Linked DNA regions of Homo sapiens: region 2 is linked to region 1. The links come from fine-mapping of genetic effects on gene expression. A gene starts in region 1. The other region holds a variant in brackets. All regions are shown on one strand. Distances are from middle to middle. Region 1 holds the start of PVT1 (Pvt1 oncogene). Region 2 overlaps PVT1 (Pvt1 oncogene).

What was found. PIP is the estimated chance that this variant, and not a neighbour inherited with it, causes the effect.
Region 2: its variant is fine-mapped to the expression of PVT1 in whole blood (TOPMed, PIP above 0.99).

Annotation. Positions count from the first base shown.
Region 1 is chr8:127,791,067-127,799,745 of GRCh38, forward strand. PVT1 (Pvt1 oncogene) reads left to right here and starts at 3,458. Exons shown (of 9, transcript NR_190187.1): 1 at 3,458-3,668. MIR1204 (microRNA 1204) reads left to right here and starts at 4,896; the gene lies at 4,896-4,962. RefSeq lists enhancers at 1,868-2,438, 3,581-4,150, 4,151-4,722, 4,444-4,493, 4,594-4,933 and silencers at 3,164-3,213, 3,234-3,293, 3,304-3,463.
Region 2 is chr8:127,988,504-127,997,182 of GRCh38, forward strand. It overlaps PVT1 (Pvt1 oncogene), which reads left to right. Exons shown (of 9, transcript NR_190187.1): 4 at 659-788. Among named protein-coding and RNA genes, the nearest start is that of MIR1206, 16 kb to the right of the region's middle. RefSeq lists enhancers at 3,792-4,293, 4,259-4,588, 4,294-4,793, 8,078-8,167. The variant G/A (reference allele first, on the strand shown) is at 4,835.

The DNA.
Region 1 (8,679 bases):
TAAAGACTGGTACTGAGCCTAAAATTATTTAATTATAGAACCAATACTAAACAACCATGAGAACTGCATTTACAGAATGGAAGTGGTAATCGAAAGACAATAGCACAACTAGGCTAGCGCAGTGGCTCATGCCTGTAATCTCAACACTTTGGGAGGCCGAGGCGGGTGAATCACTTGAGCCCGGGAGTAAGCCAGGCATGGTGGCACATACCTACTCAGGAGGCTGAGGTGGGAGGACTGCTTGAGCCTGAGAGGTGGAGGCTGCAGTGAGTCGAGTTTGCACCACTGCTCTTCAGTCTGGATGACAGAGTGAGATCCTGTCTCAAAACAAAAACAAAAACAAAAACAAAAACAGAAAACAACGAACAAATACAGGTGAGGTAAAGGGAGATGTGAGAAAATGTGTGAATGTAATAGCAAAAAGTTGCCTGGACTTTACAATGATGAGGCCTACAAGTAAAACATCATCATGCCACTCTTTCCTTGCTTTTCATTATCTTTTCTGAACCTTTGTAGCCTTATTTAGAAAGCAATGCTTCTCATGTGGTAAATAAATATTTAAAACACAACAATTCCTTTAGTTTTATGTTAGCTTCCTTTTCTTCTACTAAAAAAATTAGATTTCTTAAAAATTGCAACTATGAGACATTAACATTGTAAAATATTTTTCCTATCTATTTGTCAATCCTGCATCCATCTATATATCTATATCAAGATCTATGCCTATATGTATCCATCTGTGCCCAAAAAGGCCTCATCTGATATTCAGAAAAATTATTTCTGGCTGATAAAATTTGTTTTTCTTCTCTATTTTTTTTTCTGCAGAGTTTTAATGTTTTACAACGTGTATGTATGTGTGTGTGTGTATATATATATATAATATCACTTTTGCAAGAAGAAAAGTGACTTTTAAAAAATGAAAGCAGGCCTGGGCACGGTGGCTCACGCCTGTAATCCCAGCACTTTGGGAAGCTGAAGCGGGTGGATCACGAGGTTAGGAGATCGAGACCATCCTGGCCAACATGGTGAAACCCCGTCTCTATTAAAATACAAAAAATTAGCAGGGCATGGTGGCGCACGCCTGTAGTCCCAGCTACATGGGAGGCTGAGGCAGGGGAATCGCTTAAACCCAGGAGGTGGAGGTTGCAGTGAGCCGAGATTGAGCTGCTGCATTCAAGCCCGGTAACACAGCAAGACTCCATTTAAAAACAAACAAACAAACAAACAAACAAACAAACAAAACAAAACAAAAGCAGATATACCAAAATGTTTATTTTGGATGGTAGGAATATTAAAATATTATTTTTTCTTTGTATTTTTACTGAAAAAATGTTTTAATTCTAAAAAAGAAATTAATAAAAAGGAAAATGTGAATCTAAGATTAGTGCATGAGAGCTGGAGACCCAGAGAGGGCAAACAGCATCAAGGTCAAAGTTGAGTGAGTCCTGGGTGAAAGTGTCTTTTCAGCCAGGGGAGATTTTCCATGCAGAAGGGACTGGGCATCAACTGTCAGGACATGGACAGAGACGTCTGCCATTAGAAGCTGGTCCTCTCATAGCCCACCAGCATCCCCCAGGAGGACACTGGCTTCCTCAAGGTCACAGCCTTTGGTTTCTGGAAAAAATGATTAAGCAGTGAAAGGATTAAGGTCTCACAGCTCCTATCGCATGATGTATAGATGCAGAGGTTTCTCATCATCTTCTTTTTATATTTTAAAAGATGGATGACAACTAGATGCCAACTGCAGCTCAGGCACCTGCCCAGTCCCTCTCAGAGCCGGGCACAAAACAGACACCTGTCTAGCCCCTCACAGAGAGCCAGGCACAAAACAGACACCTGTCCAGCCCCTCACAGAGAGCCAGGCACAAAGCGGAGACTTGTCCAGCTCCTGGCAAGGAGCCAGGCACAAAAGAGATGCCCATGAGTGTAAATGAATCTGTGAAACAGGCAGAACAGGAGCATCAACTGAGTAATTGTTTTTTCTTTTTCAAATAAGAACATTTGCGTTGAGAAGCCGCCACGGGAAGAGATGTGATGAAACACTACACAGAAAGAGGGAGGAGCCTCCGGGTAGGTTGGAGTGAGTAGGATGTAGGGTAGCCGGCAGGGGAGAAGAGGGGCAACCTTCTGTTCCGTAATATTGATACCACCCATTTGTGTGTCCAATTTTTGCTGGTTTGTGACGTCCTTCTAGGGTCCATGAGTAACCCCCACCCCATTGCCTAGCTGGGTGCCTGACTCCCCTTAAGTGCTCAGTAGACGTTGAACTGGACGGGCGCTGGCGTGGTGGCTCACGCCTGTAATCCCAGCAATTTGGGAGGCCGAAGCGAGTGGATCATCTCAGGTTCGGAGTTCGAGACCAGCCTGGCCAACATGGTGAAACCTTGTCTCTGCTAAAATTACAAAAATTAGCTGGGCGTGGTGGCGCGCGCCTGTGATCCCAGCTACTCCGGAGGCTGAGGCAGGAGAATCGCTTGAACCAGGCAGGCGGAGGTTGCAGTGAGCCATGATCGGGCCACTGCACTCCAGCCTGGGTGACAGAGTGAAACTTCATCTCTAAATAAATAAATAAATAAATAAATAAATAAATAAATAAAATAAACTTTGAACTGAACAGGGGCAGCTCTTACATCTGTCCAGTCTCGGGTTTATGCAGATAGAACAAGATAACCACATCCCACATGGGAGGCCAGTGTCCACTTGCTCCTTTGGAGGAACTACTGGGCATTTAAGGGACTCGTTGAACACACTCTGTAGGTCAACTCTGCCCGGAGTGGAGGGAGCTGCGCAGACCGCTGGCCCTCTGCACGGGTTTGCAACTCGGCTTCTGGAAACAGCGGGAGACGTCGAAGGAGGCGAGAAGGTGCGCGCGCCCTTCTCACCAGGCCGGCGGATGCTGGGTGGTACCCAAAGAGGCGCTCAGATCACTGGAGCTGGAGCTCAGTCGGCGGTCTTCTGCGGGAACTGCACCTATCCCGGAGCATCTCTGGCCCTCCTATTTCACTGAACTCGCCTTCCTCAGCAGGAAAGTGGGAAGACCGCTTGCTTCCAGGACGGTGTGGGGAAGGGTAAGAGGGCTCAGGGAAAGACCGTGGAAAGCTCGGCGCACAAGCGAGCTGGCATCACCGGGGATTCCCTCCGGCCCGGTGGGACTCCGGCGCGCTTGTAGCGAGGACCCCCAGCCCAGGGCAGAGCCTACCCTCCGCTCCCCCAGTCTGGGCCCTTGGCGGCCGCAGTCGCCCAAGCCCGCCCCGCCTCCGCGCGCGGCCCTCTCCGGCTCAGTGCCCTGCGCTGCCGGGAAGCAGGCTGAGGGGCGCACCGGGCGGCGGGCGGGGACCTGGGGAAGGCCGGGAGCGCCGGGACCGAGGACGCACGCGGCGGGCCGGGCCGCGCGCGCCTCCCCCCTCCCCCGAGGCCCGAGCGCGAGCCGCCGTGACGTCACGGGCAACCCGCCAGCCCCGCGCTCCTCCGGGCAGAGCGCGTGTGGCGGCCGAGCACATGGGCCCGCGGGCCGGGCGGGCTCGGGGCGGCCGGGACGAGGAGGGGCGACGACGAGCTGCGAGCAAAGATGTGCCCCGGGACCCCCGGCACCTTCCAGTGGATTTCCTTGCGGAAAGGATGTTGGCGGTCCCTGTGACCTGTGGAGACACGGCCAGATCTGCCCTCCAGTAAGTTCCAATTTTGTCCCCTGCGTTTCTGGAAACTCTCGAGACTTGGCCCTGAGTAGGGATGCGCTGTGAGTAGTCGGACGGAGGAAAGGGGCTTTCGGAATCCAATATGTGTGTGCTAGGCGTGCACTGTCCTCATCACCAGCCTCAAGACTGGTGGCGAGTTTGGGCGTTTGGGGAGGGTGAGGGGAGGGGGATGACACCGAATGGCCGGTGCATAGAGGCAATTCTGGATTTATGAACTTGATCAAAGGCATATTAACTAATTTCTAAAAATAGACCCCTCTGCAGTCAGAACAGATTTGGAGCCATGATGTGGTTTGGAGGCCCCTCTGGCGAAACTAGAGGTCTGTGAATGTGTGATCCTCCCTCCATCCTTTGACCATCACTCCCCGCTTCCTCTCACACCCCCTCAGGGCTGGGCGAAGGTGATTTCCAAAAACTCAGTAACTCCGTGTTTTGAGACTTTCTCAGTTTTTGCATCGCATGTGAGGGTTTGTTGGGTGCTCCTAAACCCTCATCATGGTCATTCTTCTTGGCTGGGCTGTTGATTTAATTAGGTTTGCCTTCTCTTGCTAACGTGCTCTTATTTATGCCAGTGTTTGTGGTTCTGGGTGTAGACTTTCAGGAAGCACAGCCATGAAGCTGCATGCGTCTGTGTGTGGATGCCTCATGCCTTTTCCTGGTGGTTTGCAGGCATGGAAGATTCTTCTGTTCATCTAAGCTCCTGACTTTAGGCCCTTCTAGAACATTAGAGAGGAGAAGAAATCACGTGCAAGGATTTAGGGACAAGAGGATGAGGTTTTGGTGTTTCCTTTCTGGTATTAGGTTTTCCAGAGAGAGGCTGTTAGCCTGTCTCTCGCCCACTCCACCACTGTGAATCCTGGCTACTGGGGCTAGTTCCTTGCTAGGAAAAAAAAACTCTAGAGAAATGTGTTTGTGTGTGGTGGGTGGGCGGGGGCCCTGAGGATGCAGGGACTGTGTCTGCTGTGTTGTCTGTTATAAGATGTTTCAGACCTATTTTGCATACTGGCAGCGACAAGTTGAGACTTGTTCAACTTGACACAGTCCTGTGGTCATAGCGAATCTTTCTAAAGCTCTGATCAGTCAAGAAGGGGGTTGTATCAATCCTCAGAACCCTGAGTGGAACTTTCTACAGGATTTATTAGGAGAAAAACCTTCCCGGAAGCTGCAGAAGGACAAATACAGAATCCGTGTCTGGGAGAAACCTCGTGGCCTGGTCTCCATTATTTGAGATGAGTTACATCTTGGAGGTGAGGACGTGCCTCGTGGTCTAAAGCTTCGGCACAAGGGCCCAACTGGAATTCCACTTACGGGTATGACTGTGGGGTATATGCTGTACCCATTGAATTCCCAGAGGGATTTGTTAAGTGGTTGTGTTGCTGTTTTGCCTGGTTAAGAGTGGCTTATTCTTGTTGCCTCATCTATCTTGAGTGCAGAATTTTTGCATAAACGGCTTCTCTTGAAAAATAGAAGTCCGTTTTTGTTTTGTTTTGTTTTTTTTCTGATTAACTTTCCTTTTCCTCTGTCTTAAACACCTTCCCCCGCCCCTCGCCACCTCCATGCTGTGTTTCTGTGGCTGGAGCTTTTCTGCACTGGAAAGGAGGAGTTCTCCCCTCTGTTCTGACATATCTGATCCCCACTAGTTTATATGATTGCTGGTCTGAAAACCTGGTGAATTCTCACTGCCCACATCAAATCAATTCCCTGTTCTTTAGTTGTTTTTTTTTTCCGCCTCCTGAGCGGTAGGCAGGCACTCTGGCTGGATTCTGGAGCCTGTGTTTGCCATGCCTGGGCCTTCTGCCTGCCCAAGATGGACACGTTTCTCTGGCAGCTTTGTCAAGAGATCTCCTGGACTATAAGACACCCTGTTCTTTCCTCCTGTTTGTGTGAGTGGCCCTGCATTTGGGCAGAGTATTGGCAGAATATCTGGGGGAAGTGGAAGACTTTGGATAGTTGCCGGTCCAGGTCGTCTGGAGAGGCAGTGGCAGGCCTGCTGATGGCTGCCCCTTTGCTATTTGTTTTATATCAGGTGGCCCTTCTGGATGTGTGGCCTTTTTATTTTGCATTTCCTTTCATAGTTGGCTGCAGACATAAGATTCTTCTTTTTCTCTTGTTTTGCTTTTTTTTTTTTTTTTTTGAGACAGAGTTTCACTCTTGTTGCCCAGGCTGGAGTAAAATGGCTGGATTTCAGCTCACTGCAACTTCCGCCTCCCAGGTTCAAGCGATTCTCCTGCCTCAGCCTCCCAAGTAGCTAGGATTACAGGCATGCATCACCACACCCAGCTAATTTTGTATTTTTAGTAGAGACGGAGTTTCTCCAGATTGGTCAGGCTGGTCTTGAACTCCCAGCCTCAGGTGATCCGCCCGCCTTGGCCTCCCAAAATGCTGGGAGGCCTCCCAAGTTGCTGGGATTACAGGCATGGACCACCATGCCTGGCTAATTTTGTATTTTTAGTAGAGACGGAGTTTCTCCAGATTGGTCAAGCTGGTCTCGAACATCTGACCTCAGGTGATCTGCCCTCCTCGGCCTCCCAAAGTACTGGGATTACAGGTGCCACAGTACCCGGCCTTGTTTTGCTTTTTATTGTTTCCTGATGCAGGTTTGTGATCTCTTTGAGGGATCAGGACCACACCCCCCACCCCAATTTATATTCCCAGTGTCCATGGTGGGACCCTGACTGAGGATGGGAACAGAGCAACAATCTGGAATCATTTGGACCATTGAGTCCTGTGGACAGTCACTTCAATATCATCCCTAGAGAGTCTCAGAAATTCAAGGCCTTTTGGAATGCTGCCAAAATGGGTCCTTTGGCAGGAGCCCCCTTTGTCTCTTCTGTTTTCTGACCTCAAATAATCTAAGGAACTAATAACGGTAATAAATAACAATTAATAATAAGAACAATAATAGTGCATGTATAACATGGACATTGTTTATCACGCAAAGCATGTTCTTCACCTTCTACTCCCTACAACTCCATGAGGCATTTATAATGAAATGTCTAGCAATGGTAGACTTCTTGTTGTGGGGCAGGGTTGGTTCTAACACTTCAAATTATATGATCTCATTTAACTTTCCTATAAAATAGGATGATTATTGTTGTGGTTTTGCAGATGAGGAACCCACAGCCCAGAGAGGTTAAAAATATCCTCCCAGGTCACACAGCTTGGGAGAGGCAGAGCTGTAGAGATTTGGACCACAGTCTTCGACTTCTTAGTGTGACTCTCAGAAGTTAGAGGATAATGAGGTTAAGAACAAGCAAAGGGCCGGGCGCGGTGGCTCACACCTGTAATCCCAGCACTTTGGGAGGCTGAGGCAGGTGGATCACCTGAGGTCAGGAGTTCGAGACCAGCCTGGCCAACATGGTGAAACCCGGTCTCTACTACAAATACAAAAAATTAGCCGGGCATGGTGGCGCACACTTGTAATTCCAGCTACTTGGGAGTCTGAGGCAGGAGAATTGCTTGAACCCGGGAGGCGGAGGTTGCCGGGAGCCGAGATCGCACCATTGTATTCCAGCCTGGGCAACAAGAGCAAAACTCAGTCTCAAAAAAAAAACAACAAGAAAAGGGTATACCCCTTGGCCTTGAGCAGGAGAACACAGTGTGTCCCCCACCCTCACCGTGCACCTTAGGCACAAACAGAAAGCTGAACATCTTGCATGAAGATACCTCATGCTCTGCCTGCCGACCTTTTCTGCAGCCACGGAGCAGTCAGAGACAAAGGGGCCAAGAGGCCTTAGGTGAGGGCTGCCATGCTGGAAAGTTTGGGCTGTGGGTGTGGGCAGGAGTCATGGGTAGAGGTCAGAACCCTTAGTCTTGGCTGGGTGCAGTAGCTCACACCCGTAATCCCAGCACTTTGGGAGGCTGAGGCCGGTAGATTACCTGAGGTCAGGAGTTCAAGACCAGCCTGGCCAGCATGGTGAAACCCTGTCTCTACTAAAAATACAAAAAAAAAAAAAAAAAAAAAATTAGCCCGGCGTGGTGGCACACGCCTGTAGTCCTAGCTACTCGGGAGGCTGAGGTAGGAAGATCTCTTGAACCCGGGAGACGGAGTTTGCAGTGAGCTGAGATTGCCAGTGCACTCCTGCCTGGGAGATAGAGTAAGACTTTGTCTCAAAAAACAAACAACCGCCTCGGTCTTTGTGCAAAATCTATAATCATTTGCAAGAGGCTGCAATCAGGTATAGCACTGGATTTTGTGACCAAAACTAGGTTTCAGGATTTAATTAAAAACAAAAACAATGTCAGGTCATAAAACACAAGACATATACATGATGTGGAAATGGTCTTATTCATTTTTTAATTGCGAAATTCCGAACTATCTGTTTTTTTTTTCCTTTATCTTTTCCTTTTTGTGTGTGTGTGGAGTTAGGTGGGGGGGGAGGTATGGCATATTGTTTTGTTTATCTGCCTCTTTATTATCACTGACTGTGAAATTCTTGAGAACAGGGGCGTCTAAGTGCCCAACACAGCCCTGGTACTTTGTTGAATCAGGTGGCTGTCAAGAGCTGCTGCTTCAGCCCGGCATGGTGGCTTATGCCTATAATTTTTGCACTTTGAGAGGCTGAGGCAGGAGGATTGCTTGAGCTGAGAAGTTTGAGACCAGCCTGGGCAGCAGAGTGAGACTCTGTCTCTGTAAAAAATAATAAAATAAAAATTAAAAAATAAAGAAAGAACTGCTTTGTCTTCAAGGAAACAAGATACACAGTCAACAGTCATTATCTTTTTAGATATGAGACAGCTTGACATGGTGTGGAAGTGGGGGGCTTGCCTGTAGGGAAAGTATGCTGATGAAAAAGAAGGAAAACAGACAGTAGCAGGAGGCAGTGGGGATGTGTCAGGGAGCTGAGGAGTGTAGATCTGGTTACTTTTGGGCAAGTTACTTCTCTAAGCTTCAGTTTCCTCATCTATAAAATGGTTTGCTGTGATGACGAAAGAGATGATGAACAGAATGTGTCTGGCAGAGGACCTGGGCTCATAAGTGAGC
Region 2 (8,679 bases), 200 kb after region 1:
ATTCTCCACACTGTCCCACCCCTTTTGACCACCTCATCTAGCCATCTTGATGATCAGTTAAGATAAGAATCTCTAGTGAGGCTACATTTTTTTGTTTCCTGAATAATGCATGATGTCCACTGAACACATGTTACTAGATGACAGTGTTGGGCTCAGATAAAACTTACAACAAAATTAATCTGATGCAGCCTCCATGGCTCACATGATCCCCACCATGTATGAAATGGGCTGGGCACCCAGGGACAGGCTATTCTCAGAATGGGGTTATTGGGTGTGTTTCTTATTCCTCTCTACCTAGTATTCTTGGAAGAAGGTGAATGAAAATGCTCTAGTAGGGGAGGGAAACATGATTAATGGGTGGGGGCTTATGAGTCAGAAAGACCCAACCATCACTTCTGCCCTGACTGCCTGTGTGACTTCAGAAATGGGGGATATCAAAGCCTATCTCATAGGATTAAACAGTTTAATGTGTATAAAATGCCTAACACAGTGCTTGCCACATAAGCATTGCTCATTAAATGTCTTCTCTTCTTGTGCTCCTCATTCAGTGTATAGTAAATGTGCAGTCCTTATCTTTTAAATGAATGAAACATCTCATTACCAAATCTATTCAAGGTAAACATTGATATTAATATGTATCCTTTTTGTGTGTTTCTAGAATCCTGTTACACCTGGGATTTAGGCACTTTCAATCTGAAAAAATACATATCCTTTCAGCACTCTGGACGGACTTGAGAACTGTCCTTACGTGACCTAAAGCTGGAGTATTTTGAGATTGGAGAATTAAGGTAAGCGACTTTATCTTCCTGATCCTTGTGAAACCAAAAATAGCTTTTGGAGTTGACGACCTCCTGCAGCACAGCTTGGGTTGTGGTTCTTGACCTCTCGGTGTGTCTTCCTGTGCCGCTCCAATGTGTTCGGGAAGCTGGCTCCCCATAACCTCTCCCCGACCTGGTTCTCAGAGTCTAGTCCACTTATTCATTGTGCCTAGGAAGCTCTCCCTCTGTCCCTAGTGGAGGGAGGAGCCCACCATCTCCTAGTGAATGCGCCACTTGTAGCAGAAGGTGCAGGATGCTCCAGCTGTCTTGTGAAAACATGTGGAGACAGCCTTGGGGAAAAGAGGAAAAGGTGAGGTGAGGGTTATATAATCAGATTGAAACACCTTTGGGACATCCAGAACATGAGCTCTTCCTCCTTTCCCAGCCAATCCGTGCTTCCTCCTTTCACCTCCTTGAATTCTATGCTCCTTCCACACTAAGGCTGAGGGTGCAGGAGGTAAAGGGTTAGAGGTTAAGACTGAGTGCTTCAGGTAGACTTGGGTTTTCTTGGTTTTGCTACTTGCCTCATTTTGGACAAGTCACTCAGCCTCTCAAAGCCTTGGTCTCCTCATTAGTAAAATAGGGATGGTATTAGTGCCTGCCTCATGAAGATGTTGTTTGTGTTGAGTGAGATATTGGAGCAAAACAGCTTAGCAGGCTGCCTTGCACTGAGGAAGAAATGCTCCAAAAGGGAAGAGAGTTTTTGCAAATTATTCCTCAATTATGCCATTTAGAATTCCTTCCATGTATCAGGCTATTTTGAAGTCTTTCATTTGCTGTCCCCCCAGCCTTTCACCTATCACCAAGTCAGCCTGGGAAACAGCTGAGAATCACCTTCCCAGTTGTGCCCAGCCCCTTACCCAAAGCAGAGTTGATTCCCCCCTCCCCTGGACGGCAGCGGGCTAGTGAAGGCATGTCTCCACTATACCATGGCTACTGCACTGGGTTGAAATGTCCCTTGCCCCTTCCCCTGCCCATTCCCCCTATTGCTGGTGAAATTGCTTAGAGCAAGGACTGTCTTACACATCACAGGATCTGGCATAGTGCCTGACCGAGGGTGAAACAACAAATGAATGAGTAATTGAAAGGAGAGAGAAAAAGAGATAGAGAAGTAACCAAAAGAAGAAAGTTTTTAAAGGTTCAGAGGAAAGAATGAGGTCAGTTGCAATTTTTTTTAAGTAAGATGTTGGAAAGAATAAATGACATGATGAAAAGGAAACTGACATGATTCCTATCATGAATTTGAAAGCTATGCAAGGGTGGAAAGGTGGGTGAGAAGCTGTGGACTGGTGAGAAGACAGAGAAGTCAGAACTGAGAGCATAGCAGAGAACTGTACTTCTGTTGTGCTACATATGTCATCTTCATCTTTTGTATTGTGCCTTAAATTTTCAAAAGCGCATTTGCGTTTCAAATCTGCTGTGATAGTCAGCATTCCTGTGGCATGCAGAGGTGAAGAGCATGAGGCCTTGCCCTTCAGTCAAGGTGGGGATACTGGCACACATAGGATACTACATACTCCCTAGGTGTCTGTGAGGATGGTGGAGGGGATTTTCTCCATGCCGGGAGGCTTCCTGGAGCAGGTGCTGCCTCTCGTGACTCTTGAAAGATGCTTGTGAATAAAGCATACTGGGAGCTGAGCTGCTGTTTAGTAATTAAAAATCCTTTCCATTGTTTAGAGCTCAGCACCTTTGTGCATTCATATTACGCATTCATTTTCGTATCATTGTTGAATTTCTCACTTCTGCTACTGCAATGTATGTCTACAGCTGACAAGTCTTCCTTGGGAGCCCTACGTAGCTCTTTTTTTTCTTTTCTTTCTTTTTTTTTTTTTTTTTTTTGAGACGGAATCTTGCTCTGTCACCCAGGCTGGAGTGCAGTGGCGCAATCTCGGCTCACTGTAAGCTCCACCTCCCGGGTTCACGCCATTCTCCTGCCTCAGCCTCTTGAGTAGCTGGGACTACAGGTGCCCACCACCACGCCTGGCTACTTTTTTTTGTATTTTTATTAGAGACGGGGTTTCACTGTGTTAGCCAGGATAGTCTTGATCTCCTGACCTTGTGATCTGCCCGCCTTGGCCTCGTAGCTCTTTTTGACCCTCAGGGACAGTCACTGAATTATGTCTTGGGAGCCCATGCTTCTGAGGCAGGCTTAGGGAGCAGGAGAGCATACAGGTGTAGCAGCCTTTCCAGCTGATCCCCATGCCCTGCTGCACCTGGAGGGCTGGAACAAGCTATTCTCATATTGGGGAAAAGGGCTGATGGGACCTCAGTCATGTGGCAGAGAATCTGAAAGCCAGAAGCTTGGCAGGTCTGTCTCGGGGTGGGGTGACGGAGAGACATTTCCCTAGAATTCAGCTGCTGGGAGCAGAAAGACAGAGCAGGGGCAAGTGCTGGGTTTCTGAGGCCCGCAGTCCTGAGCATGGCCTCAGGCAGTCTGTTCTATGACAGAACCTGAAGAAAGGCCCAGGCATTTGCATCTATGTGTGCAGTTCTACTTGTCCTAAAGGCACTTCTCACACTGGGAGCCTGCCTGTCTGTACCTGTCTAGAAATCAGCCTGGCTGGGACGCACACCAATAGGAGGGCATCCTCACCTTTCCCACCCATGAGTCGGGACTGTTGCCTGCTGTGCAGCAAAGGCACCAGGAACACGGAGTCAGACACTTAGGGTCTACCCCAGGCTCCACTTCCCACTGCCTATTTGACTCTGGGCAAGTCTTTTACAGCTTTTCAAACTTCTCTCTTTCTTAAAACAAAAAAAAAAAAAAAGGAAAAAAATTTCTTGCCAGGCACAGTGGCTCACGCCTGTAATTCCAGCATTTTGGGAGGCTGAGGTGGGCTAATCACTTGAGGCCAGGAGTTCGAGACCAGCCTGGCCAACATGGTGAAACCCTGTCTCTATTAAAAATACAAAGATTAGCCAGGCATGGTGGCACACGCCTGTAATCCTAGCTACTTGGGAGGCTTAGGCACAAGAGTCACTTGAAACTGGGAGGCAGAGTTGTAGTTAGCCAAGATTGTGCCACTGCACTCCAGCCTGGGCAACAGAGCAAGACTCTGTCTCAAAACACACGTACAAATTTTTTTCTTTTATTTTTTTAAAGACAGGGTCTTAGCTATGTGGCCCAGGCTGGCCTCCAATCCCTGGGCTTAAGCAATCCTCCCACCTCAGTCTCCTGAGTAGCTAGTACTATAGGCACACACCACACACCCAGCCAGACTTCAATTTTCCCAGCCACATCATGGACCAGAAGCCACTTGGTCTGGTTGTGAGGATGACGGAACCTTGCCCGAGGAAATGGGCAATGAACAGGAGCCTGTTTGTTTCTCCTTCCAGCTCCTGACCTGTCTAGCTCCTGACCCTCTCAGTGTCATTCTTGCTCACCCCTGGCCCTGCTCCCTGGATATGCAGACAGGATGGGCTTCTTCCCTTTAGACCTTCACTTTGCTCTTTTGGACTCCTCTTCTGGCCTTGCCTTCCCCTGGTGTCATCTGCTGGCTCCCTGCCTGATACTGCCACACTGGTCATGCTGGCCTCCTGGCCTTTGGTGACACCGCATCAGCAGGCTCCTGCTTCCCTGTCAAGGGATACAAGCCAGCACCGGTCTTTCGCCACAAGGTATGTGTGTAAAGATTGCTTCCTGTACTTGGTGTCCACAGGATTTTAAAGAACTCCTGGCCCACTCGGAACTCTACGCTTGAAACAGAAACATCTTCTCAAAACACCTCTGGTATTGGCCCATTTCTCTATTACTGTTTCTTGTGGTTTCATACTGAGGTTTTTGGTGCATTGCAATTGCCCTGGAGTTTATTTTTAGTAATAAAGACAGAGTTCAATTAATGTCAAAACATGAGGGTAATTGCAGAGGAAGGATTAGTAAGTCTAGGGGAAAATGTGCCCAACTTTTTTTCTTCTGATAACATCTTTCACTGATCATACACCGTCACACCCACAGACACGGAGCTTCCTCCGTGATGTCTGCAATGCACTAGGCCCAGTCGGGGAGCAGTGGCTGC[G/A]CCACCACCTGAAAACGAAAGCATTTCTGAGTCTCTTTCAGTCCAGCTCATCTAGCAGCCAGCCACACAGGTGACCACCCACCGTAGCTGTCACTATGGGTGATGATTATCATTATGGTTTTGAGGAAAGGCTGGGCTTTAGAATAGTCAATTCTTATCCTCTCTCCGGGGGGATTTATTCTGTCTCCAGAAGCAGCATTTCACTTTCCTGAACATCAGCTCTTCTCCCCTGGATTGCAGGGTCTAGGTCTTGTTCTCTGTCTGCTTCCAGCTTTTGGCATTTTGACAGCACATAGGACATGCTTGGAGAACGTTTTCTTGAGTTAACTGAATTCAGGACACTGACTTGGGGCTGGAAAGGCAAAGTGAGGAAGAAAGTATTCCCCTTTCAGAAGCTCCCCAGTCTGCCTTAAGAAACAAAGGCAGCCCTGTCATCTGCCCAGGACTTTACAGTTTATAAAGTGATTTCTCATCCTTTCTCCTTTCTTGTATTGCACAAATATCGAACGAGAACCTGCAGTGTGCCACTGTGCAGGGTGCCTAGAATAAAGGAGAAAAGCCACTGTGCTTTCTCTGAAGGAATCACAGGGAGTGAAGCTAGCTTCATGGATGCCAGAATTTCACAGATGAAGGGACTGGAGGCTTGGAGCAATTGCATTGCTTGAGATCCCCCCTGCTCATGGATGGTGGCTCCCAAATCAGGACATGAGTCTTCTGAATCCCTTAAACCTGCCCTGTGCCTGCCTGTTCTCCCAGCACATTCTCTGTACTCTCTTGTGCTGCTCCTCACCCCCTCTCCAACTGTCTCTCCTTCTCCACCATTGTCCTCTGCCCACTCCTAGTCCCTTCTTTCAGCTCTGTTTCTTCTGAAAATGAGGATCTTTCTCTCTACAGTGCCTCTTGTGGGACGGGTTCTGCTGATGGGGGCTGTGTTTGGGATCTCGCCTGGAAACACGATCTCTCCAACTTTCCCTGGGAGCAGAGCCTTGGGTCTCACTGAACCCACCTCCCCAGCACCTTGTGTGGTGACTGGCAGGAGGTAGCCATTCCCTCCTGTCCTCTCTGCCCTTGTCCACTTTCCTGTTATGAGTCAGTTGCTGAGATAGGCTATGAGGAGTTAACAGAGTGGATAAAAAAGAGCTTTGTCCTTCTTTAAAGCCTTCAAAATATACAGATGTATTAGTCAGGGCTTTCCAGAGAAACAGGACCAATAGAACATGAAGATAGATGCGTATCCATGTCTATATCAATATCTACCTTGATATTTATATCTATATCTAGGAGATTTATTTATTATAAGGTATTGGCTCATGCAATTATGGACCCAGAGGGGTCCTGTGATTTGCCACCTGCAGGCTGGAGACCTAGGAAACAGCTGTCGTGTCACAAAGGGCAGAGGGCTGGAGAACCTGTAGTGTAGATTCCAGTCCAGATTCGAAGGCCTGAGGACCAGGAATGCCAAGGGCAGGAGAAGATCGATGTCCCAGAACAAGCAATCAGGCAGAGATGAAATTCAACCTTCCTGTGCCTTTCTGTTCTATTCAGGCCTTCAGTGGGTTGAATGAGGCCCAACCCACATTGAAGAGGACCATCTGCTTTACTCAGTCTCCTGGTTGAAGTGATAATCTCATCTGGACATACTCAGAAATGCTGTTTAACCAGCTCTCTGGAAATCCTGTGGCCCAGTCAAGTTGACACACAAAATTAACCATCACACTGCAGAGACACAGTCTATCCCAATACCTGTATTTACTGGGTAACGTGCATCTCAGCTCACCAGGCTGGTTTGATTGACTTGGCCCAAAGCTGCCCTTTGAGTGTTGAGCCCCAGCTGACCCCTTTGATCCTTCACAGCCCCATCATTAAAACAAGGACCCTGAATCAAGTGACTGTAAGAGCCACTCTTGTCCTGTTCTGTCTGTATCCTGGCTTTGAGTGTTTATCTAAGCTAAGCCCAATTGACTGTTGTCATTCTTTGTCTCTTCCTTGCTCAGACATCAGTTAGGTATTTATTGAACACTCCTGTGTTCACAGCATCCGGCTCCTGGGATTAGAGACAGCTCTTGACTCCTGGTTTTGCTCTTTGAAACCTATTGGACTGCTTTTCTTTTAAGATACACCCCCCACATTATAGGAATCTATCCATTTCTTTGTTCATTTCTTTAATTGTGCATTATATCAGTCCGTCAGTCAGTTTTCCTCCTGAAATATGCTAAGTATTGAGAATTATAATAGATTCTATTAAGCACCGCTAATAAAGTACTATCCTTATAGTAGTAGTAGTGTTTGCGGTGATGGTCGTGTTAGTACTAGTAGTAATCAAGATGGCCATGAAGAGACTGCTTTTAATCTACCAGTAATCATGGTAAAAATAGTAATAGCTCAAATGTATTATTCATGGTGTTTCAAGCACTTTACATTATATGATGTCATTTACTCTTCACAACCTGCCAGGAAATGGAAATGATTACGTAATATACTCCAGTTTGCAAATGAAGGAATCTTCCTGCGGAACGTATGTGAAGCGCATATTGGTGCTCTGGGCTTTTGCATAATTTCAAATGTCCTTTTTTTTTTTAAACTTAAGGCTAATGTTTAGAAGCTTTTGCTAATGAGAGGACCATTTGCTAAATCGGTATAAGTGCTACACATTTGGGTATCTCCATCCCAACATACCTCTTATTGCCATTCCCCAAAGCAGACACCTTCTCCTCCCTCCCTCAAGGACCTCTGAGCTTGCACTCCAATTCCTCTCCCACACTCACCTTTCTCCTTTCTGTTCCTCTTGGGATCCAGGTTTATTTGAGGAGATAGGAAAAGCTCCTGATCCAGCAGGTTTTATTCTTAAATTTGTAACAAAGTAAATCACAGAACCTCCACCCAGCATCCAGGCCTCTGGTTCTCTCCCTCCTTCCCAGGTATAGGCCGGCTTTCAGAAACCCTGCACCACATAGACCCTGGGCCTGAATTGCTGTGAGTAATAATGACTCTGCTGGTAATTTGTGTCCTTCTGCTTGGAACTGTTTCCTTTTTAGTTTGGTCACCCTCCCAGAGCTGGTTTCAATGGGGGCATACCCATTATGGGATGCAGGGCATCCTGCATCCTGAGGAATTTTTTTTCCTCCAAAAATGAAACCTTGAAATGAGGACATTGTCCTGTCCACGGACTGCACAACAACACTGAGCCTCAAGGACTCATACTGGCATTTTTCTTCTTTTGCAGAGTGTGGGCACCCTGGCTTCAAGCTCACGAGAAACCAGGTCGGGATTTAAACAATGTTGGGTTAAAGCAAAGTTTCATAAAGACAGAATCAAGAAAAAAAGAAAGAGAAACCAATCTAAGTGCCATCCTCCCTGAGTTGCATCTTACCTGAGTCTTCAGCCGCCGCCCCCTGCTGCTGTGGGAGGAAACGGGAAAGTGACTGGCCATGGGGACAGGGGTCGGGGGTGTGAGGGTTAGTGGTAGCAGGGAGGTAGCACTTCTGTGAAGCCGGAAAGGAGACCTGAACCTGGCTCTCTGCTTTGCTGCTTGCCAGCCCTCTGGCTGGGAAGAAGGCTCTTGGCTCTTGTGAGCCTCGGTTTCCTCTGCAGAGTGGCCTGTTCTGAGGACAGGCTGACATTGCTGTCCATCAGTCTTCCAGGACCCTGAGGATTTCAGCTCTACCCATGGGCACTGAACTGGAACATTCACTGGTCATTTGCTTTCGTTTTTTTTTTTTGTTTGTTTGTTTTTTGATACAGAGTTTCACTCTTGTTGCCTAGGGTGGAGTACAATGGCGTGATCTCAGCTCACCACAAGCTCTGCCTCCCGGGGTCAAGCGATTCTCCCCAGTAGCTGAGATTAC